Linked DNA regions of Homo sapiens. The protein of the gene in region 3 purifies or fractionates together with the protein of the main gene of each other region. This does not show direct contact. Each region holds a gene or a part of one and is shown on either strand. Other genes may lie near its edges.

Region 1 (3,623 bases), on a different chromosome or scaffold from region 3:
GAGAAGTGAGTGCCTTCTCTCCTAATGTTTAAATAATAAGTGTAAATATGGAAATCAGATCACCCTTTAAGCTGGATAACCTCGTGCAAGAGAATGCTTTTAACATATGCTGATTTGCAAGCCCCAGTAAAGGAAGGCTGCTTGACTCTGTAGTCAGATCTTGATTCAGATCCAGCTCCACTGCTGACAGAGTTGAGATATCTCCTGTAAAATGAGATAGAATTACACTACCTGCCCCGTGTTGGAATTAAATGAGATAGCGAGTGTAAAAGTTCTAACACACTGCGTGAAGCTTCATGTGCGAAAATGCGTATTGCCTGATCTCCCTGCATCCCTTCTGGCTTTTGTTTCTTCTTTCCTCTGAAGATTATGTAGGTACCCTGCCCAGTACCCATACGTTTAGTGTTTGTGACCAAAAGGATTTCGTATAATGTATCAATAGAGAATGCTTAATGTGTTTGTTTTGGATAAAATATCCCAGCATCTTAAATTCATTGTCAGATTATACATAAAACGCTTAATTGGCTGTTTTAAAACATTAGAATTTTGATCTTCAACCATAGTTTGTTTCTAATCTCCATAATCTCCCCAAATATTTTTCTAAAGATTCAAGTTAAATATAAATAGTTTCCCAATCTTCAGTGAATTCTGTCTTTTAGGGATTGACTGTGGGAGTGGTCTCTAAGATATAGTATTTGAAATTTAAAGTTAGAAGAATACTTCTGTAATCTACCTTGAATAGGTATTTTAAAATAGCTTAATTTCTGAAGAAAAGTTTTTAAATATTTTAATATTGAAGGTTATTTTAATATTTTAAAGTAACTTTAGTTAATCTGTAATTTTTAAAATACTTTGATTTGGTGTGAAATTAATGATTTTCTCGTGTATAGTTTATCTGTGTGCCTTATAATAAATGGACCTTGTGTCCAGTTTATTATAATTAAGAGTGTAAATCCATTTGTTAATTAGTAAATCTTACACATAGCACACGATATAGGTTGGTACTTATTTAATAAGTACTAAATTTTTATATAGATGCTTTATACTTTAATAATATTTATATTTACAGAATTTAATTGATATTTACTGAATTTAATATTTTAATTATTAATTATCTTAGTCGAGATGAAATCATAAGCATATGAGTTAAAAATATTAGCTCCTTTGTGAGGTGGAATACCATATTTAAACATTGGTGTATGAAGGCAGGTAATTTACTTCATCATTATTTTAACAAGTGATGTTGATAAAAGCCAGAGGAACAAACATGGGTGAAAAACATATTAATTAATCAAACTTCTAGTAAATACCAACCCGGGCATGTCTTTTTATGGTTGTCTTGAATTAATACTAATTTTACTTCCTTACACAAAAATACAAACTTCAAAAACAAAATAAACAAGAAAACATGAAAACATAAAAAGGAAACAAAGCAAAAACAAAACAAAAACCTTTAATATATGGACTTAAAAAAATTCTCACCATTATTAAAATTATATGCTTGAGAAAGGTTTTCAGTAGTGGTCAGTAAGTTTATACTGCATGAGCTGGACATTTTTACTTTGTTACTTGCGTGACCAGCAGCATGCATGTGCAGGTTGACGTGGATTCATTTGAGGCATGATTTGTGACACTTGGAACAAAGGGCTGCTTCCCATTCGACCTGGTAAAAGAAATTGTAACTTTTGGGCTTAATAAAACAAGCGGCTCTTGCATTGACTAATACTATATTTGCCTGTTTCACCTCTCGTCCTCATCCTTAGCTGTCCATCTTCTACATAGAAATTGGAATTATATTTCTAAAATTCAGATCTATATGTCATTTCTTCTTAAAGAAAAAAAAAAAAACAACTTTTGAAGGCGTATGAGATCAATAGAGTGGCAGTAATGTAAGGGATAGAAGATTGGCCTGTAAAATCAGACTTCCTGGCTGGGCGCGGTGGCTCATGCCTGTAATTCCAGAACTTTGGGAGGTGGAGGCGGGCAGATCACCTGAGGTCGGGAGTTTGAGACCAACCTGGCCAACGTGGTGAAACCCCGTTTCCACTAAAAATACAAAAATTAGCCGGGCATAGTGGCTCACACCTGTTATCCCGCCACTCTGGAGGCTTAGGCACGAGAATCGCTTGAACCCAGGAGGCAGAGGTTGCAGTGAGCCGAGATCGTGCCACTGCACTCCAGCCTGGGTGATAGAATGAGACTCCATCTCCAAAAAAAAAAAAACAACAACAACAACAACAGACTTCCCATCCTAAGTTAAAATACCCACTGTTCTTACTGTGTTCTTATTTAGTTACTTGCACTTTGTGTTCTTCAGCAAGTTCTTATGATTTTTGAGGCTTAGTGTATAAAATAGTAATTATAACATTATTTCATACAGTTTTTGAGAGGATTAAATGAGGTGTGTATTATAAAGTGCAGTGCCTGGTATATAACCTGCATTAATTTTCCTCCTACCATTACTATCGTTACTACTACTGCTATTGCTGTTAGTCATGGCTCACTTTATAATATGATTCCATCGTGTCTTTTGAGGCTCATTTTCAGCCATCACCTTTCAGTTTCTATGCCCTAGTCAAAGCCAGCTATTAGCGCTAATCTGAAAAGGCCATATGTTTTCATACTGATGACTACTACTTTTATTTTCCCAGCCCAGACTTCTCTTGAGTTTGATATTCACTTGGAAGTCTAGTTGGAATCTCAAGTATAATATAAATGATGTGGGTAAAATATAGCTATTTTTCCCTCTTCCCCCAACCTTCTTCCTACCCCTAAACCCTGGTGTCTCTGCTGGCATTCCCCATATCCATAAATGGCAGTACCCAAGCCAAAAACTTAAGATATTATTCTTGATTCTTTCCATTTCTCTTAAGTCCAATCCATCCCCACGTCCTGTTGCACCTTCACAATTTGCCTTGAGCAGTCCACTGCTCTTAGTCTTCGTTGCCACCTCTTTATTTGAAGCCATCATTCTCTTGCATGAAGTACTGCAGTAATTTTCTAAGTGGGCTGCTTCTTTTTCTTCTTGCTCCATAGAAGTTTTTTTTTTTTTTTTTTTCTTCACACAGCAGCCTGAGAATTATTTTAAGAGCCTATATTGGATCATATCATTTCTCTGCTTAAAATCTTCTGGTGACTTCCCATTCCTCTCAAAATCAAGTCCTCCATTCTGTGGCCTAAATGGCCCTGAATGAGCTTTCTCCTTCTCATCATTCTTCCCCTCATTCATCACATGTCAGCCACGAAGGCCTCTCAGTGTTTCTTAAACCCTCTGCACCCTTTTTTCTTCTAGGGCCTTTTGCACTTTCTGTACTCCCTCCTTGGGATATTCTTCAAATGTCTGGCTTGGCTAAACACTTTGGAGTTTGGCCCAAATCTCACTTCTCACTCAGAGGCCTAATCTGACCATCCTATTTAATATTGCAGTCTGTCATTTTACTCTCTTACACAGATTATTTCCTTCAAGACAATTGTAATTTGTGTATACCTGGTTTGTTTAGTTATTGCTTATTTATGGTATTTGTCCATTACCTGAATGTAAACTCCATAAAGGCAGAGGCCTTGTTCATCTTACTCTTAGCTGTATCCCCAGGCATTAGCATGCCGCCTGGCATTTGGAAGAT
Region 2 (3,623 bases), on a different chromosome or scaffold from region 3:
TGCTCACTAGTCAGTCCTGGTCTTCCAGACATGGAATGAGTAGCCGAAGCAGATGTTTGGAGGTTTGGATCCCATTTGTCTGCCATTGCCTTTCTAAGGAGTAGAACCAATGACTGTTCCTCTAGATTTACTATTTTTTTGCTTGCTCAGCATTTACCAATCAAAATCCAATGCCAGAGTTCAAATGCAACTCTAGTTTTAAAGCTAACAAGGAGTTAGTGGGTTATTTTGGGTAGATATGTAGCTACCTAGATGAAAAATTTTGAATCTATAATTTTAAATTATGTATTCTAAAAAACTGTTGTATTTTCTCATTATTTATACCCTTTTAAGAATGCTCTTTAACTTTTCATATTTCTATCTGCCCTCCTCCGCCTCCCTTAAATAGAAATGACTACGATGATACCATTCCAATCTTGGATGCACTAAAAGTCACCGCCAATATTGTGTTTGGATATGCCACGTAAGAACATTTGATGTTTACGTTGAAGTTTCCTTTATTGTTTGATGTCTTTTTGTTTTTGCTTTTTAGGAGCAGGGGTCTTAACTCTGTCACCCAGGCTGGAGTGCAGAGGCGCCATCATAGCTCACTGCTCCTGGGCTCAAGCGATCCTCCTGCCTCAGCCTTCTGAGTCGCTGGGATTACAGGCATGTGCCACTGTGCCTGGCCCCTGAGGGTTTTTTGATTATAGATTAGAGGCCTAGAAAATACCTATAGACATGTAGGCATAAATTTACCTCCTTGATATTCTGCGTAGAAAATTTTAAATGATCGACTTTAGCATTCCATATCATGGTATCTTAATTATTAAGCCCAAATTGGGCATGTAATTCCTGCTTAAAGATTAACTCTTTAATTATCAATGTCATGTGAGAGGCAGAAGAGAAAATGAAGCTTATTGGTGTATACAGAAGTCCCATGTGGCAAGTGTTTGCTTTTCTAACATTTTCTTTTTAAAAAATTATTTTTATTGGATATTGACAAGTTATAATTGTATGTATTTATGGGATACAAAGATATGCTATGATGTACGTATTCAATGTGGAATGATTGAATCAAGATAATTCACATATCACCTCAAATACTTATCTTTTTTCCTAACTGAAACATTGTACCCTGTGACTAACAGTCCCCACGCTGTCCCCACCCCCCCCCAGCCTCTGGTAACCACCATTCTGCTGGGTGCTTCTCTGAGTTCATTTTTATTAGCATCCACATATAAGTGAGAACATACAGTATTTGCCTTTCTGTGCCTGGCTTAACTTCTTTTTCTATTTTTAAGGTGTCAAGGAGCAGAAGCTTTTGAAATCCAGCATTCTGGATTGGCAAATGGAATCTTTATGAAATTTTTAAAAGACAGATTATTAGAAGATAAGAAAATCACTGTGTTACTGGATGAAGTTGCAGAAGGTAAAATAAAAAATAAAGAGAAAAGTACTCAGAAAAAGGAGAGCAGGGGAGACACACCTATTCAGGGTTCCCTCTCTGGTGATTGTTTTATTCTTATTATGTGGGTTTGGAATTAGTACCTACTTTATAAAACAATTTTTATATTAATATAACGTTCAGCAACACTTCTGCTATTTAATGTCATCTTTCCTTCCCTTTTGACCTAGCTCTCCACCATCTGTGCAGCATTACTCAGACTACAAGGCTAAGCCTCGGCACAGTCATTAATAAAGTTGAATTCTCAGAGCTCTACTTTGCTTCTATGCCCAGTGCCTTGGTACTGGCAAATCTCCCTATTTGAGGGTGGGTGGGTGGCATGGAGGGGTGGTGGGGAATTGTCCAGTGAGCAGTCTCTCCCAGGATGGGAGAGAGAAAACTTTACAGAAATTTTTAGACACTGCTGGGAAAAGCTGAGTTCATTTTTTTCCCTGATGAACTTAGTAGTTTTTAAATCCTGATTTAAGGATGTGATCCTAGGGGGTCTAATGCCACATCTTCCATTTCTATCTGTTCTCCCTGCCTGCTGGTATAATGCTGTGCATATGTCAGATGCTGAACAAGTACCTATTATTTCAGTAGATTGCACTGTGTTTTTTGAAAAAACATTTTATAAGCCATAGCAAAAAGAAGGTAACTTGGCCAGGTATGGTGGCTCAAGCCTGTAATCCCAGCACTTTGGGAAGCTGAGGCAGGAGGATCACTTAAGGCCAAGAGTTCAAGACCAGCCTAGGCAACATAGCGAGACCCTGTCTTCAAAATAAAAAATAAAAATAAAAAAGAAGAAATTATTTTACAAACTAGCACCACTAGAAAATGGAGTTTCATGGATGTTCCAGTGATGGCAGTTTGGGTATAAGGTGTTTGACCAACTGTCAGCCATATTTATTTTCATGTTTTTATCTGTGTAGCTATTTTAGATCACTTGACTTAGCCACTTTTCCATTTAACATAACCAGCCAGGGCTTTGGACTTCCTGCCACCCTCCCGCTTCATCCAGAGAAGTTCCACTTTTATTTGTTTTCTACATTAGGCTTCTTCTGAAGCTTACATTTGAAGGAAAGGCTCTGCTGCTTTAAAAAAAAAAAAAGAAAGAAAGAAAACCTTTGGATTATGTCAGTTATATTCAAACTGAGATCCAGTAAGGTGCTCCAGAAACTCTACAGTGTTTTATTTCAATTTCGTTTTTAAGTCCATTTTAACTATTTTAAAACTTAATAAAAAGCACCATGCTCACTCACATATGATATTTACCAAATTGTCATAGCAATGAATGGCATCCCGATATGTGCTGTGAGGATATTTGAACTTCTTATAAACATCTTAGACAGTTTTGCTTTTCGCTGATCTTTTTCAGTCCTACCATGTCTGCTTAACCAGAATTGCCCAGGCAGGAAGACCCTGTAGTGTACATGGAGCACACTCAGCTCAGTGCCGTGCACATTGTGCCCTTCGTGGGTAACGGCCCACTCATTGTACAAAATAAGTAAAGGCCTAATAGTATCATGATAAATAATACAGTTAAATCTAGCCCTTATTTTGAGTTTTGGATGCTTTGTGTCTGACCCCTGTCTTAGTAGTAAAGAGCAAAAGTAGTTGTATGAAATTTTTCACAAGTCATCCAATTTTGAAACAAAACTTTGCTGTTTCTCCCTTTGGATCTTCCAGATTACTTAATTGAAACTCATTCCATGGCTGGGCATGGTGGCTCACACCTGTAATCCCAGCACTTTGGGAGGCTGAGGTAGGAGGATTGCTTGAGCCCAGGAATTCAAGACCAGTCTGGGCAACACAGCAAGACCCCATCTCAATTTAAAAAAAAAATTATTTGGGGCCAGGTACAGTGGCTCATGCCTGTAATCCCAGCATTTGGGGAGGCTGAGGCAGGAGAATCACTTGAACACAGAAGTTTGAGACCAACCTAGGCAACATTGTCAGACCCCCCATCTCTATAAAAATTTAAAAAATTAGCCAGGCATTATGGTGTGCACCTGCAGTGCCAGCTACTCGCGAGACTTAGGTGGGAGGATTGCTCGAGCCTGGCAGTTTGAGACTGTAGTAAGTATGACCACACCACTGCTCTCCAGCATGTGTGACAGAGCAAGCCCCATCTCAAAAAAAAAAAAAAAGAAAATTCCAGAGGGAGAAAAGTATTCACAGATTATAAGCCAAGCAG
Region 3 (3,623 bases):
AGAAGTAACTTTATTTTAGAATTTGGATTCCCATTTCTTAAAAAAGAGACAGAGTCCTGAGAGACACCTGTGTTGGGTGGGAAAAGGGGTTCCTTCTCCAACCCCCATCCATCCTGCATAGGCCATTCCTGAGACAAAATGGAGCACTTCTCTGGTTTCGGACATGACATCACTATTTCATACTATCTTTGTACTCTTTCCAAGGGTTCACAAAATTATTAAGCAATTGAATGGATTTTTAAAAGTGTGCCCTGCCTGCTCAGGGATCTGAGTGAAGGTACAATAAAAATCCAGAGAGATAAAGTGCACAGTGAAGAAAGAAGAGTTGAGTGTGGAGAGGAGAAACTGTACTCGAAACATCACTGCAAGTGCACATAAATCCTAGCTTTACGTTTTACCCAGTTTTTCCAGGCCAAAAGAAGAATGGAGGGATATAGTTCTCCTTGTGTACTTAAAAAATAAACACCGGCCAGGTGCGGTGGCTCAAGCCTATAATCCCAGCACTTTGGGAGGTCAAGGCAGGCAGATCATCTGAGGTTAGGAGTTCGAGACCAGCCTGGCCAACATGGTGAAACCCCGTCTCGACTAAAAAAAAAAAAAAAAAAAAAAAAAAAATCCAAAAATTAGCCGGGCATGGTGGTGGGTGCCTGTAGTCCCAGCTACTCGGGAGGCTGAGGTGGGGAATTGCTTGAACCTGGGAGGCGGAGGTTGTGGTGAACTGAGATCATGCCACTGCACTCCAGCCTGGGCGTCAGAGTGAGACTGTGTCTCAAAATAAAAAAAAATAAATAAGTAAACACCATTTTCTCTGACAACACAGCAATGAATTATTCATAGCAGAATGTATGGCATGTAGTAGGTCCTAAAATGTGACTGACACTGGGTTCAAAGGATAACTTGCTCAGATTCTTCGAGCTACTAGGGAAAGATTTAACTCCGAAGTTTACTTTCCCACTTGATTTCGTGGCTCTCGTATCAAAGGACACCAAAATGGGAATGAAACATTTTAGGACCTACTGTGTGTCATACACTCTGCTACCTACTTTACACTTACGACCTAATTGTATTATCTAATTTAATTCTTAGCTCATCACACTCTGCAAGACAGAAGTTAACAACATCAACAACAAACACTGAGTTCAAAGAATAACTTGCTCAGATTCTTGGAGCTATGAGGGAAGATTTAACTCCAAAATCTACTTTTCCCACTTGATTTTGTGGCTCTTATATCAAAGGACACCAGATGGCATATGATGGAGGGTTTCAACAATTTTAGTTTTTGCAAATGATGCAGCAACACACTGTTGGCAATGGTAAGGGCATGGCATTTGGATACAGAAAATTCTAGCTCTAGTTTTATTTCACAGACATTTATTAGCTGTGGAAATGTGGGCAGATGAATTAGCCCCTCTGGGCTTCAGTTTCCAATTACTACTGCATTCTCTAACTTACAGGACTGTTGTGAAAGTCAGGTAAGATGAGACCTGGGAAAGTAGACTCTAAAATGATCTCTGAATCACAGTTGCTAAAATTCAGTCATTTGTCATTTGTTTCTGTTATTGACTTTTGGGAAAGGCCGAAGTCAATGATGTGACAACAGCCCTGAACATGTAAGTGTCTAGGTTTAAAAGCGACGGAGCAGGTTCGTAGCTTGATGGTAGCTGACTTGATAGAAGGGAAGGGATGAAACTTAGATGGGAATTCAGGCAAATGAATGATGCTCACATCCCCAGAGAACACACAATTTGTTTTCTTAGGCTTAAAATTTGTTTGAGAACAAGGGTATAGAGGTCTTGGTGAGGAAACATACTTTCCACATAAAGCCAGAAGAGAGAGAAAAGACAAGTTTTGGAGTATTCTCAGTGTTGTGAGAAAGAGAAACAGCCATCCTGTCTTGCTTTGATATCTCCCCCTCCTCTCCTCTCCGTGTATAGGGACCCAGGGTCCTGATGAAAAGAAGTAGACAGCTTTGGACATGGAGTGGGGGAAACCTGGGGCTCCCAGCTGCACCTTGGGATACCGACTAAGGCTTGTAGGTTTAACTTAATGTCTTCCTTATTAACCTTATTCAAATGTGGAAATCCACATGGGAACAAAGAAAGATAAACATTTCATTAACAATTAAAAGTCCTCTTTTAGTAATTGCTTCTTTCAGTAAAACACCCTAAAACCAGCCATAAACTAAGAAGCCAAAAAGACAATTTCCATCTATATAATGTGCTTTCAATTTTTGGTAACAGGTTATAATTGCACATTAATTGCTGCTAAATTACAATGAAGACTGGCTGTAACATTGCCTATTATGCTCAGATTAGCACCAAATGAGCCTACTGTGGTTCATATTATTGTGGAACTGAACAAAAAGAATTCCTGAATATCAGCTACCATGTGCTGGACAGAGTCGATTCTGCTGAAAGGCAAGGCATCAGTGTTTAAATCCAAACCCCAAATGGAGCTCAATATTATTCAGCTGTGGTGACCGCTCAGTTGCATTTTAGTTTGTTTAATATTAAATAAACTGGGTAAGACATCCTGCCAAAGTCTGGTGAGCAGTTGTGGTGTATAATGCTGCCTTTGGCTGCACAGATTCATAGAACAGTCATCTCTGATTAAAATTTTCCTGGGAGTCCCATCCAAGAATGTAAAACAAATAGGAGCCCCGTTAATACATGAGATACCCTTAATATCAAAAATTACCTAAAAGCCTATATTCCATATCATCCCTCCTTAAATCACCAGCTTGAAAATTTTCTGCAGTCACCGGTAGTTGGTTATAATTTCTTAAATTATCTCTTCTTCCTTCTTCTCACCTCCCCTTTTTTTTTTTTTTGCTCCTCCTCTCCCTCTTTCCTTCCTCTCCTTGTCATCTGTGAGTGATGGAGACAACCCCCCACCTGCATGTATGGCAGGAAGAATTTAGAGGAGGGACTTTCTCCACAATTTTTTTCCAGGACTCTCAAGCTACAGTTTTCTTATGGGCTGAATTGTGTCTATACTGAAGTTCCAATCCCCAGGACCTTGGAAAGTGACTGTATTTGGAGACAGGACCTTCAAAGAGGTAATTAAGGTTAGATGAGGTTATTAAGGCAGGTCCTAATCCAATATGACTGGTGTTTTCACAAGAAGAGAAAATTTAAGCAGAGTGTGGTGGCACAACTGTAATCCCAGCTACTAGGGAGCTGAGACAGGAGGATCACTTGGGTTCGGGAGGTCAAGACCAGCCTGGGCAACACAGTGAGACGTCATCTCAAAAAAGGAGAACACTTGGATGCAGACATGCACAGGAGGAAGATGATATGAAGGCATGGAGAGAGGGCGACCATTGCAAAGCATGGAGAGGGGCCTGGGAAGAAACAACCCAGACAACACCTTGATGGTGAACTTCCATCCTCCAGACCTGCGAGAACATGAATTTCTGCTGTTTAAGCCAGCCAGTATGTGAGATTTTGTTATAGCAGCCTGTATTAGTCTGTTATCACACTGCTAATAAAGACATGCCCGAGACTGGATAATTTATAAAGGAAAGAGGTTTAATGGACTCGGTTCCACACAGCTGGGGAGGCCTCGCAATCATGGTGGAAGACAAAGGAAGAGCAAAGGGACGTCTTACGTGGTGGCAGGTG
Region 4 (3,623 bases), on a different chromosome or scaffold from region 3:
CTTAGATTACCCCCTCCAGGACATTTAAGTTTTGTACTGTTTCAATTTAAGAAAACTTAAAATTGCTAGTTCTTTCAACTTCTTAATTTTTGATCTGTGTAAAAACCCTTCGATCTTTGTTCTGTCTAGTAACTCTTCTTGCCAAGCAAATACATAAAATTAGATGCTTCCCAATAAACATTTGTCACCAGACATGATAAATTATTCATAGTTGGAGATAATTTTATTAAACTCCAATGCTTTTATATCACTATCCATCTAACAACAACAGTCTTCTCCCCTGAAATATTTGTACATTGGTAGTGGTGGGTTAGGATGGGGATCAGGTGTTAGGGAGGTGACTCCAAACCAAGGCAGAAAAGGGATGTGATAAAATATAAATGTGGGGATAGAAAGGTTTGCTTCCTACTTGGAAACCCATGAGACTTCCTAAGGTGAAATGGTGGGATGTCTTTAACATCCTCATAAAAATATAGCACCTTGACTCTTCAAGCTGTACAGATGGTGCTCCTAAAGAGGAAGAAGTGTCAGACCTGACTAGTGCACTTATGTCACTAATAACTACAGTTGTAAAAAATCAACAAGACTTATTTGGTGAAATGATGGTATCGGAATGTGTAAAGCGAACAAAATGATCTAGACCAAGCAGCTTTTTAGAACAATCTGTCCAGTAGAACTTTCTGCAATGATGGAAATGTTCTGTAGCTATACTGTTCAGTATGGTAGCCAGCCACCAGCTATACATGTGGCTGTTGAGGACTTGAAATGTGGCAAGTGTGACTAAGGAACTGATTTTTAAATTTAACTAACTTAAATTTAAATGGCTACATGTGCCTTTTGGTTACCATATTAGATAGTGCACTTCTAGAATTTGCATTTCCCTGCTTCTTAATCACTCCTCTTCACAAGTAAGAGATAATTGCTATTCTGAAAGACCATGTGGCCTGTGAAAAAGGCAGACAAATACTTAACCTTGAGATCAAAAACATAAAAGAAGCAAAATAGGAAATAAGATACGTCCAGCTGAAAAGAACAGAATCTAAATGAAACTTAACATGAGTCAAATAATAAGATTGGACCTTCCATGGGTGACATCTCTTTTAAATTTGTTCTTGGGAATGTTCCATTTCTTCGCAACAGAAGATGCACAGTAAGCAGTCTTCTGGTACTGCCCCAGAATTTTCCTAGATATCTGTCATGTGTAAGCCTTGTTACTACTTATTTCATTGAAAAAGTCTATAATCTCCACCCCAACTCCATGAAACCTTTTCTTTTTTTTTTTTTTTAGAAGTTAATCTGGCATTTTCTACACTCAGGGAATTAATAACCACATAATTTGGCATCTACTTATTAGTTTCTTTTTTTAATAAATTAGAAACTTGAAAATGGGCATTATGATTTCAATCTCTTAAATGATTACAATATTACAAAAAAGTACTCATAATCTTTTTTTTTTGTCCCCTCAGATTCCTTTTTACCATGATATTCTTAAATTATTCACTTGCTTATTCATTACATAGGATGTTTCTGGTTTTTTCCCCCCAGCAGAAGATATTCTAGATTTTTCAAGTTTTCCTTTCTATATGAAAAGCCATTTTCATACAGAAAATATTTCATCAAGTTTAAACAATGAAACCAATTTAATTGCTTTGATACTTCTTTGTATGTTTTTATGTTCACAAATTAAATTTTTGCTAATAGTCACTTTTATTTAATGAAAATTAGTGATTTTATTCAGTATTTTATTAAAATACTAGGTAATTTGTGCTATAATTAAAAAATATATATTAGTATGGTTTTTGGAAAAAGTATATATCAATAGGAGGTAATAAGATGATAGGTTGGCATTTCAACTTTTAGAATAACATGACTTTGTAATAATTTATGTCTTCTAAATATGTATTTTTTAATAATTTAAATAATACTTTCTTCTCTCTAGATTTTTGCTTCAGTGTCTTGAGGATCTTGATGCCAATCTACGAAAATTAAACTCCCGTCTGTTTGTGATTCGTGGACAACCAGCAGATGTGTTTCCCAGGCTTTTCAAGGTAATTTGAAAAATATTTGCATAAAACAATCTTTTCTCAGATAATATTACATATTTGGTAAATAAAGTTTTTTGACTAATTGAAAATGTAGCGAATATAAGTATTTTCAAGTAAAAATTTTGTGGGTTTTTTTTCTTTATTTAATGAAAAAGCTATACATGGTAAAAATCAGACAGTGAGAAAATAGTTTACAATGAAAAGTTCAATCTTTCTTCTACCTTAAACTGCTCGTTGCCCTCCCAGAAGCAACAGCTACTACCAGTTTCTTATGTATCCAATTCCAGTTTCTTGTTTATCCAATTAGAAATATTCTTTGCATAAACAAGAATTTTTTGTGTGTGTATATATATATATTTTTGTGTGTGTGTGTGTATATATATATGTGTATACACACACACACATCCATGTGTTTGTGTCTGTGTTACTGTCCCCTTTGTTAAAAGTTAAAATGACACACTATACACACCATTCTCTGCCATGCTTTGTTCACATAACCATATCTTTTGGAAGTTGTTCCATATCATTTCCTCGGTCTTTCAGATGACTTCATAGTATTCCATTTTGTAGATGGCTATAATTTTTTAAACTAGCTTTCTACTGAACGTTTAATTATTTTCTCTGTAGGCCTTTTGCTAGTATAAATGCCAGTGAACTTACTTGTCCACATTTATGAATCTTTGCTCACATGGGCCAGTACATTTGTGGGATAATTCTTAGAAGACTTTCTGGGTCAAAGGATTGTAACAATGGACATTTTACCAATAATACAGAATTTGTAGTGCTTTTTTTTTTCTTTTTTTGAGATGGAGTCTTGCTCTTGTCGCCCAGGCTAGAGTGCAATGGCGCAATCTCAGCGCACTACAACCTCTGCCTCCTGGGTTCAGGTGATTCTTCTGCCTCAGCTTCCTGAGTAGCTGGGATTACTGGCGCACGCCACCATGCCTGGCTAATTTTGTACTTTTAGTAGAGACAGGGTTTCACCATGTTGGTCAGGCTGGTCTCGAACTCCTGACCTTAGGTGATCCACCGGCCTCGACCTCCCAAAGTGCTGGAATTAAAGGTGTGAGCCACTGCGCCCAGCACTGTAGTGCTTTTTAAAAAACTTAGTAGGATCTTAAAAATCTTTAAAAATGTTTAAGATACCTAATCTTATCTCTTCCCTTTTTTCCAAATGAAAAAATTAGGCCTAGAGAATAATTGAGTTGCCCAAGATCATACAACTAGCTCATGGAAATGCCCAGACCAGAAACTGAGTTTCCTCATTGCCCTTTTTGTATTCATCCCTTCCTATTTATTACTGTATTAGTCCATTTTCACATTGCTGCAAAGAAATATCTGAGACTGTATAATTTATAAAGAAAAGAGATTTAATTGGCTCACAGTTCTGCAGGCTGTACAGGAAGCATAGTGGCTTCTGGGAAGGCCTCAGGAAACTTACAATCATGGTGGAAGGGGAAGGGAAAGGGGAAGTAAGAACTTCACATGGCCAGAGCAGGAGGAAGAGAGAAGGAGCGGGGAGGTGCCACACTTTAAAAAAAACAAAAAACAAAAAAAAAAACAGATCTTGCAAGCACT
Region 5 (3,623 bases), on a different chromosome or scaffold from region 3:
CCATGTTGGCCAGGCTGGTCTTGAACTCCTGACCACAGGTGATCCACCACCTGCCTCAGCCTCCCAAAGTGCTGGGATTACAGGCGTGAGCCACCGCACCCGGCCTATTTAGATTCTTAATGAATTATAATTTACATGTGTGTTCTCTGTTTCCCTAAGGAGATGTAAAAGCAGGAACCTGGTTTTATTTTTCCTCCTCAACAGCAATTCCCTCCCCGGCAAACAAGCAGACACATCCCTGATCCTGGCGCATCTCTTTCCATAATATGCATTGAACGTACTGGCTGATGGACTGCGTTTACTTAAATTTCACCTTGATTGGTCATACAGATGGGAGTGGAGGAGATGATTTTCTTAGCTCCTTTGTTGACCTGCAGTTGTGATTTAAGCACTTGCCAATTGAATATCTATTTCATTGCAAATGGGCTGTGATGCATTCCAGTGGGCTGAGCCTCGGAGGCTGGAGAGAGCACCAGGCCCCTCTTCAACAGGATGTGGGAACTTGACTCTCGCCGCAAATTAAGTTCTTGGGGCGGGAGCCCTTTGCTGCAGGCTCTGGGCGAAGGCATGGGTAGGAGGACCTGGTGGCGGAAGCAGCGGTGGTAGCCCTGATTGTGACAACCCCTGTATGTTTTTCAGTAACTTGTGAAGGTGGAGGTGGAACTGCAACAACCCCAGCGATGCCCTGTCTGCTATGGCCTTGCATTGTGAGGTGTCATGTGGAAGGAAACACCTGACTTAAATGGGGACTTTCTGGGTGGTGTGTGTGCCCCGCCAGGTCCCCTCGGACCTTGGCAGAAAAACCACCACAGATATCGCTGTGCATTATCTCCTGGTCTGGTGTTATTCCGAGCACTGATGATCCGGATCCTTCTCCTGTTTCTACTGTGTTCTCTCTTCCAGAGTGAATTAGAGCAGAAGAAGCAAGATAGCCTAGCAAGTAGTAAAGCTTTGATGGTGATGGTCCACCTCCCAAATGCTGGCGCCTTGTATTCTCTATAAGGCATGTGCATCAGTTGGATTTTTGTGTACCCCCTGTTTTTAGAATCAGGAGCGGGACAATCATCATCATTCTACAAATTCGAACCTTCAATGTTCTTTTCCTGGTTATCCTACAAAATAGCTCCTGTACAAATAGTTTTGACTTTGCCATGGCCTCTGAGGGCTTAAGCATAAATGGATAAGGAAGTTAAATACGACTTTCTAGCCAGGCATGATAGTGCATTCCTGTGGTCCTAGCTACTCAGGAGGCTGATGTGGGAAGACCGCTTGAGCCCAAGGGTTTGAGTTCATCCTAAGCAACGTGGCGAGAGCCTGTCTCTAGTATAAATACATACATATAAATATATATGAGTTTCTATGTGTTTCTGAGGTTTGTTTTGCTATATGTTTTTGAGTTCTTGATGTGGATAGAATGGCGATAGGATGTAGAGAATATAGAGTGAGATGTAGATAGTACAGAACAACAAATGGTCCTAAAACCACTTATTTTTCTTATTCTATTTTACAATTTTTTATAGCAAATTTAACTTACATTTGTTTAGGATAATTCACTCAGCCTGCATGACCTGAAAATACCAAATTAGAAAACAGTTTTTCAGGAATTTACATTTTGACTAACGAACTTGTAGATAATTGAAAAATGTTTTCATAGATATCTTATTAGTGGCTTATTTGGTTCTTAGGCTAATAGTTGATGTACACTTCATAATACAATATAAGTTCTTTCATTTTTTCTGTTCCTCCAACCTCAAAGAGAGACCTAAATTTCAGCTACTATTTCTTTTTCTTTTCTTTTCTTTTTTTTTTTTTTTTGAGACGGAGTCTCGCTCTGTCGCCCAGGCTGCAGTGCAGTGGCGCGATCTCGGCCCACTGCAAGCTCCGCCTCCCAGGTTCACGCCATTCTCCTGCCTCAGCCTCTCCGAGTAGCTGGAACTACAGGCGCCCGCCACCACGCCTGGCTAATTTTTTGTATTTTTAGCAGAGACAGGGTTTCACCGTGGTTTAGATCTCCTGACCTCTTGATCCGCCTGCCTCGGCCTCCCAAAGTGCTGGGATTATAAGCGTGAGCCACTGCGCCCGGCCTATTTCTTATGGTTGTTCTATTTTCATGTACACCCCAACAAAAACTTTATTTTGCTAAGGACATTTGAAGTCTGAAATAAAAATCTTTGATGTCTGGGAAAGATACTGTTTGTCAAGCGAAAAATAGAAATGTTATGCTTTATTTTTTCCCTCAGCCTTCGTGTCACTCCCAACAAACACGAAAACATAGACAGACACAGACACACGCTCCTGGGTGGTAAATTTCTTTTCTACACTCAACATGATGTTAGAAACTGAAAGCTTATTGTCTACATGGAGTGAAGTGGGGGTGGAGGAATGAGGCTATCTGTGGGGTTTTCTAGAGACTTCCTTCCCAGCATGTGAAAAGATCTGTGTGAAAACTGCTAAGAAGAGGAAGAACTCAACGAGCTAACCAAGACAGGTGGCAGCAGCTGGGCACAATGGGTGGCTCAGGCCTGTAATCCCAGCAATTGGAGAAGCTGAGGCAGGAGGATTGCTTGAGGCCAGGTGATTGAGGCTAGCCTGGGCAACAAAGCAAGACCTCATTTCTACAAAAGAATATGCAATATTAGCCAGGCACAGTGGTGAGTGCCTGTAGTCCTAGCTACTCTGGAGGCTGGGGTGGGATGATTGCTTGAGCCCGGGAGGTCAAGGCTGCAGTGAGCCATGAATGCACCACTGTACTCTAGCCTGGGTGACAGAGCAAGACCTTGTCTCAAAAAAATAAAAAATAAAAAATAAAAAAAGGCATGTGGCAGCTTCTAGTCAATGAGAGATCCAGAGTTCGATTTGAGGAAAGTGAAAGCTATACATTAGAAATGGAAAGCTATGGAAGATTCCACAAAGAGAAATAGATAATATTTTGAAACCTTACTCTAAGGAATATGACAATGTGGGATATCCTCCCTGCCCTCAACCCTCCCCCTTGTTCCCATTCCATTTCTTCTCCTTTAGAGCTTTGAAGAAAACGCATTTGGTATTTAGTAATCAGGATTAAACAATATAAGCACATCACACCTCTTAGCTCACTTTTTCTGATAACTGCACAGAAACAAGACTCTGTCATAAGATGAGCATCTTTTCTCACCTTTGTTATAATGGTGCTCTTCACTTTGGGTTGCGCTTTTTCTCATTAAAATTGTGATGTTTTCAATTTCAAGTTTTCCATGGTGTTCACCCTGCTCTTAGCACTCAGCCACTCTCTTTTCCCAGGCACGCTTCTCTTTCCAAAGCACTTCATGGCTTCAGCTGCTCTGGGCTCTCACTTGTCCATTCATTCATGGATTCATTCATTTTCTTCTGAGTGTTCTAGAGACTCCTTGCTTATGTGCTAAATCTAGTGTGTGGCACTTTTCCATGATCTAGATTAACATCTGTGCTTTACTAAAAGTGCTTTTCTTGGCGAACAAATCACCTTTACACGCCCCCTGCCAAAAAAAAAAAAAACCCAACTCTACATATACTCATATAATTATCAAGAAATTCTAGAGTTTAGTAGTTTATACCCATTCCTAATTTCATTATTAAACTAATAATCACATTTTAAAATAACATTT
Region 6 (3,623 bases), on a different chromosome or scaffold from region 3:
TGTAAAATGAGGATGATTCTACTAGTCTCCACTTCCTAGTATTGTGGCCATAGTTAAATGAGATGGTACATGTGAAACGTATGCAGGAAGCACTTTATAACAGCTTATCATTATTACTATGCATTAAATGTGAATCATACCCACCTAGTGTGAAGGGTTCTCTATCAAACGGAGCTAATGAACGATCTAGGGGAGGTTTCGTGCTTCTGTCTATTGAAGGAGCAGGGACTGGAAGGGGAAAAGGCTGACATCAATTAAAAGAAGAAAGCAGTCGGCTGGGGGTTGGGCGGGGCTAGGGGAGTGCCTGGTGGGAACAGGGCAAGAGAGAGCAGCCCTTGTACTCACGCTTTGCCGTTTTGTGGTTTCTGCTTCTGCTGGGTTCTTCGTGGTTGGTCTGGGGTGGGGGCAGTGGCTGCATAAAGATCCAAACGTTAGGAAGCACTTCCAATACATCAGCAAGAGCCGGCACTCCCAAAACCTGTCTGGATCTGCTCACTTTTCCTCATCTTCATGTTCTGCCTACAAACATCCATGTCCATTTCTTCACTGAACTACCGCAGTAGCCTCCTATCTGAGCTCCCTGTTCTAGACTCTGCCACGCAAGCTCTTTTCTGCAGGCAGCAGAGTGAGCATGTCACTTTCCTGCTAAGCCTCCTATCACATTAGAAACAAAATTGAAACTCGTTAATGTCCTGCGAGGCCCTGCCTGAGCTGGCCCATGTCTGCCCTCTCAACTCTTTCCTGTGATCCCTTCTCAGTACTCATGGGGTCCCTACCATAGAATCTTCTTGCAGTTCCTGGAAAATCTCAAGGTTATGCCCTCTTTGGCATCCCTACACTTGTTTCCTTCTGCCTAGAACGTTCTTCTCCCGGCTCTTCCCACAACTGGCTCATTCTGTCCCAGGTCCTTGTCACCTCCCCCCCCCATACCGTCATGTTACCTGGTCTTCCGTCCCCCGAACCACACATAACTACTCAAATGATCTCTTTCAGACATCTGTCTACCGTCTGATAACTAGCCCTAGTTGAGTTTTATGAAAGCAGGGACCTTATTTATCTTGTTCACACTTTATCCCCAACGCCTAGAACTCTGCTTGGCACATAGTAGCTGCTCAGACAATATTTGCTGATTAAATAAGTGAATCCTGCATCTCAAAAGAAGGTCTTCAAATCTCAAAAGCAATATACATCTGTAGATAAACTTGTGAAGGGAACACATTCCTAACTATCAAGTCCTTAGTCTGAGCTTCTCAGGGTCACTCTGGGAACTTATCAGATTCACAAGGACCGGGCTGTATGCTCGAAGAAGGAGAAAACGGGGTTTGCTACCTCTGTCTCCTCCGGTCTGAAGGCTCCTGTCCTTGGAATTTCAGGTGTCGGCCAGAAGGTGGCGCAAGTCTTTTTGCAGGAGAGAGGAAGGCTCGGTACCCAGGCAACACCAGTAGGTGCCACGGACTTAATTCGGTTCTCTTTGGGTTTATTTTACAGTTTTCACTTCTCTCAAATAGTGGGAAGTAAATAAAAACCACCAGTATTTTACCCCAAAAAAGAAACACGTGTGAATGCTTGGGTTTGCCTTTCCCCAGCCGAGGGAAAAGATTATAATCTTTTCTTACAAAATTAGAATGAGATAAAGATGTTTATAGTTTTATTTTTCTCTCTGGCGGAGGAAATAACTGCAGTGGACACCAAGTACTGTAAAAGAACGGGAGGAGGCCTACCGAGTGATTCCGGCCGGCTGGTGGGGGCGGGAGGGCGGCCATCGGTCTCTGGGGGGGCACAGGAGGCTGCTGGGGGGTTTTCCCAGAGGGGGGCCGGTCTGTGGAAACACAAGGTTATTAAAGTGAAAGGGGAGTATCGGCCAAGCTCAGGGGTCTCCAGGAACAGATATGCAGCTCGGGGCACCGGGGGTGCATGATCCTTGACCCCCAGGCCCACATGAGCCCCAGCCACGGGGAGACCCAGCCTGGATCTCACCCACCCCTCCCTGCCCATTTTTTCTGTCCTAGTTTGTGTCACTCTCCTTATACACAGGCTCAGCTTTCTTTGCATTTCACAGGAATAGGTATTTATCAGAGATTTTGCCAATCAAGAAAGGCCTCTTTGTAACCAGCTCAGCCAGAACTGGAAGGGAGGATTTTCAGACAATTTTGTAAGAAGTAAACATACGCATACCTCTGTATGCAGACACACAGATATACACATGTGCACACATGCATGCACACACATGCATATATATGCACACACCTGCATACACAGAGACACGAGTGCACACAGACACACACACATGCCAAAAATCTCACAGGCACACCCAGCTGCCTGTGCAGGGTGAAGTCAGCTCTCACTGCCATAGGGATCTTGTTCTGTCTGCCCTTCCTTCCCCTCTCCAGTGTCCTGGGCTATCTCCTCCCTGACACTTCCTCATTTTGCTCATCTCTTCCCATAAAGGGAGGAGCTGATCACCAACTTCTGTTACCAGACCACAGACTCTTAAGTGGAAGCTAGATTTGCCTCGAGCAGAAACTCACATTATCTGGGCAGAAACTCACATTATCCACATCTCCACGGAAGTGTCCCTAGGCCAGGTTGACAGGCTGGCAATTTCCTACCCCTTTGACAGGGAAAGGCCAGGACAAGACCATCAAGCAAGAGGGGTGAGTGGGTAGGGCCTCCTTACGCTTTGTGCCCTGGGTGCCTCTCTTGCCCGACTCTAGTCCCAGCCTTGGGGAGGTGCAGCTCTTCCACAGGGAAAAGGGTAGGAGCAAGGCCCAGCCTGATCTAATTCCACCCTGCTCCACCCGCACTGGCCATCTCTCAGCTTCTCTAATAGGCCATGCTCCTTTGAGCCTCAGGGCCTTTGCACAGCCATTTCTACTGCTCCAAATGTTCTTCCCTTACCACATCCATTTCCACTTGGCCAACTTGTATTTATCCTTTAACCTTGGTTTAATATCACAGCTTAAAGATACACCCTCAGGCAAACGCTCCAGCCTCATCTGTGCTTGTCTTCGTGCCTCTGTATCACGGTTTCACCAAGTAACCTCATGGCTCATTTGTTGGAGGGTGCGTCACCTGCCAGACTGTCAGTCCCTTGGCGAGGGCTGTCTTATTCACTCTGTATCTTAATGACTGGCACACACAAGGCACTCAACAACTGACTCATCCATTGCTTTTCCGGACCTCCACTTCCCTGTATATGAAACAGACTTGATCATGGTTGTCCTTATTACACAGATGTTTAAAAACCACCATGAGATATTGAGACAGCATTTTGTGAAAGGGCTTTAAAATGGAAATGGGTTATACCGCATAAAGGATTAAATGGTATTCGTTTTTTGTGGTACTGACCTTCAATTTTCAGCGTACTCTCTGAAAGTATATTATTTAAGAATATATTTGTTTATTTTCTGTCAACACCACTACTAGAATGTAAGCCCCAGGAGGCAGGGGCTATTTCTTCTTTCCTGATCATTTCTAAGCACTGAGAATGGGGCCTGGGCTCCCAGCAGATCAACAATGTTTGTTGAATGAATGGAGAGAGAAGTGGGCTAAAAGGACAGATAGACAATAAAAATCGTAAACACCATCTAATATTTTTTAAAGTTATAGTCAAACCCTACTCA

What was found.
Region 1: the proteins of PRKCQ (region 3) and MEF2A purify together in Homo sapiens (co-immunoprecipitation; one study listed by IntAct). This does not show direct contact.
Region 2: the proteins of PRKCQ (region 3) and MALT1 purify together in Homo sapiens (affinity purification with western blotting; one study listed by BioGRID and IntAct). This does not show direct contact.
Region 4: the proteins of PRKCQ (region 3) and CRY1 purify together in Homo sapiens (co-immunoprecipitation; one large-scale study listed by IntAct). This does not show direct contact.
Region 5: the proteins of PRKCQ (region 3) and FYB1 purify together in Homo sapiens (affinity purification with western blotting, with the first as the bait; one study listed by BioGRID). This does not show direct contact.
Region 6: the proteins of PRKCQ (region 3) and LCP2 purify together in Homo sapiens (co-immunoprecipitation; one study listed by IntAct). This does not show direct contact.

What each region holds. Positions count from the first base shown.
Region 1 is NC_000015.10:99,568,975-99,572,597, forward strand, and holds part of MEF2A (myocyte-specific enhancer factor 2A), read left to right. Parts: exon of another isoform or gene 1-5; intron 6-3,623. UniProt on the Homo sapiens protein: Transcriptional activator which binds specifically to the MEF2 element, 5'-YTA[AT](4)TAR-3', found in numerous muscle-specific genes. Also involved in the activation of numerous growth factor- and stress-induced genes.
Region 2 is NC_000018.10:58,733,919-58,737,541, forward strand, and holds part of MALT1 (mucosa-associated lymphoid tissue lymphoma translocation protein 1), read left to right. Parts: exon of another isoform or gene 1-62; intron 63-388; coding exon 389-463; exon of another isoform or gene 464-469; intron 470-1,283; coding exon 1,284-1,411; intron 1,412-3,623. UniProt on the Homo sapiens protein: Protease that enhances BCL10-induced activation: acts via formation of CBM complexes that channel adaptive and innate immune signaling downstream of CARD domain-containing proteins (CARD9, CARD11 and CARD14) to activate NF-kappa-B and MAP kinase p38 pathways which stimulate expression of genes encoding pro-inflammatory cytokines and chemokines.
Region 3 is NC_000010.11:6,479,181-6,482,803, forward strand, and holds part of PRKCQ (protein kinase C theta type), read right to left. Parts: intron 1-3,623. UniProt on the Homo sapiens protein: Calcium-independent, phospholipid- and diacylglycerol (DAG)-dependent serine/threonine-protein kinase that mediates non-redundant functions in T-cell receptor (TCR) signaling, including T-cells activation, proliferation, differentiation and survival, by mediating activation of multiple transcription factors such as NF-kappa-B, JUN, NFATC1 and NFATC2.
Region 4 is NC_000012.12:107,020,509-107,024,131, reverse strand, and holds part of CRY1 (cryptochrome-1), read left to right. Parts: intron 1-1,939; coding exon 1,940-2,048; intron 2,049-3,623.
Region 5 is NC_000005.10:39,209,524-39,213,146, forward strand, and holds part of FYB1 (FYN-binding protein 1), read right to left. Parts: intron 3,495-3,623; exon of another isoform or gene 3,155-3,494; intron 1,569-3,154; exon of another isoform or gene 1,535-1,568; intron 1-1,534. UniProt on the Homo sapiens protein: Acts as an adapter protein of the FYN and LCP2 signaling cascades in T-cells. May play a role in linking T-cell signaling to remodeling of the actin cytoskeleton. Modulates the expression of IL2. Involved in platelet activation.
Region 6 is NC_000005.10:170,266,664-170,270,286, forward strand, and holds part of LCP2 (lymphocyte cytosolic protein 2), read right to left. Parts: intron 1,820-3,623; coding exon 1,722-1,819; intron 413-1,721; coding exon 346-412; intron 229-345; coding exon 145-228; intron 1-144. UniProt on the Homo sapiens protein: Adapter protein primarily involved in signaling pathways within T-cells, as well as other immune cells such as platelets, mast cells, and natural killer (NK) cells.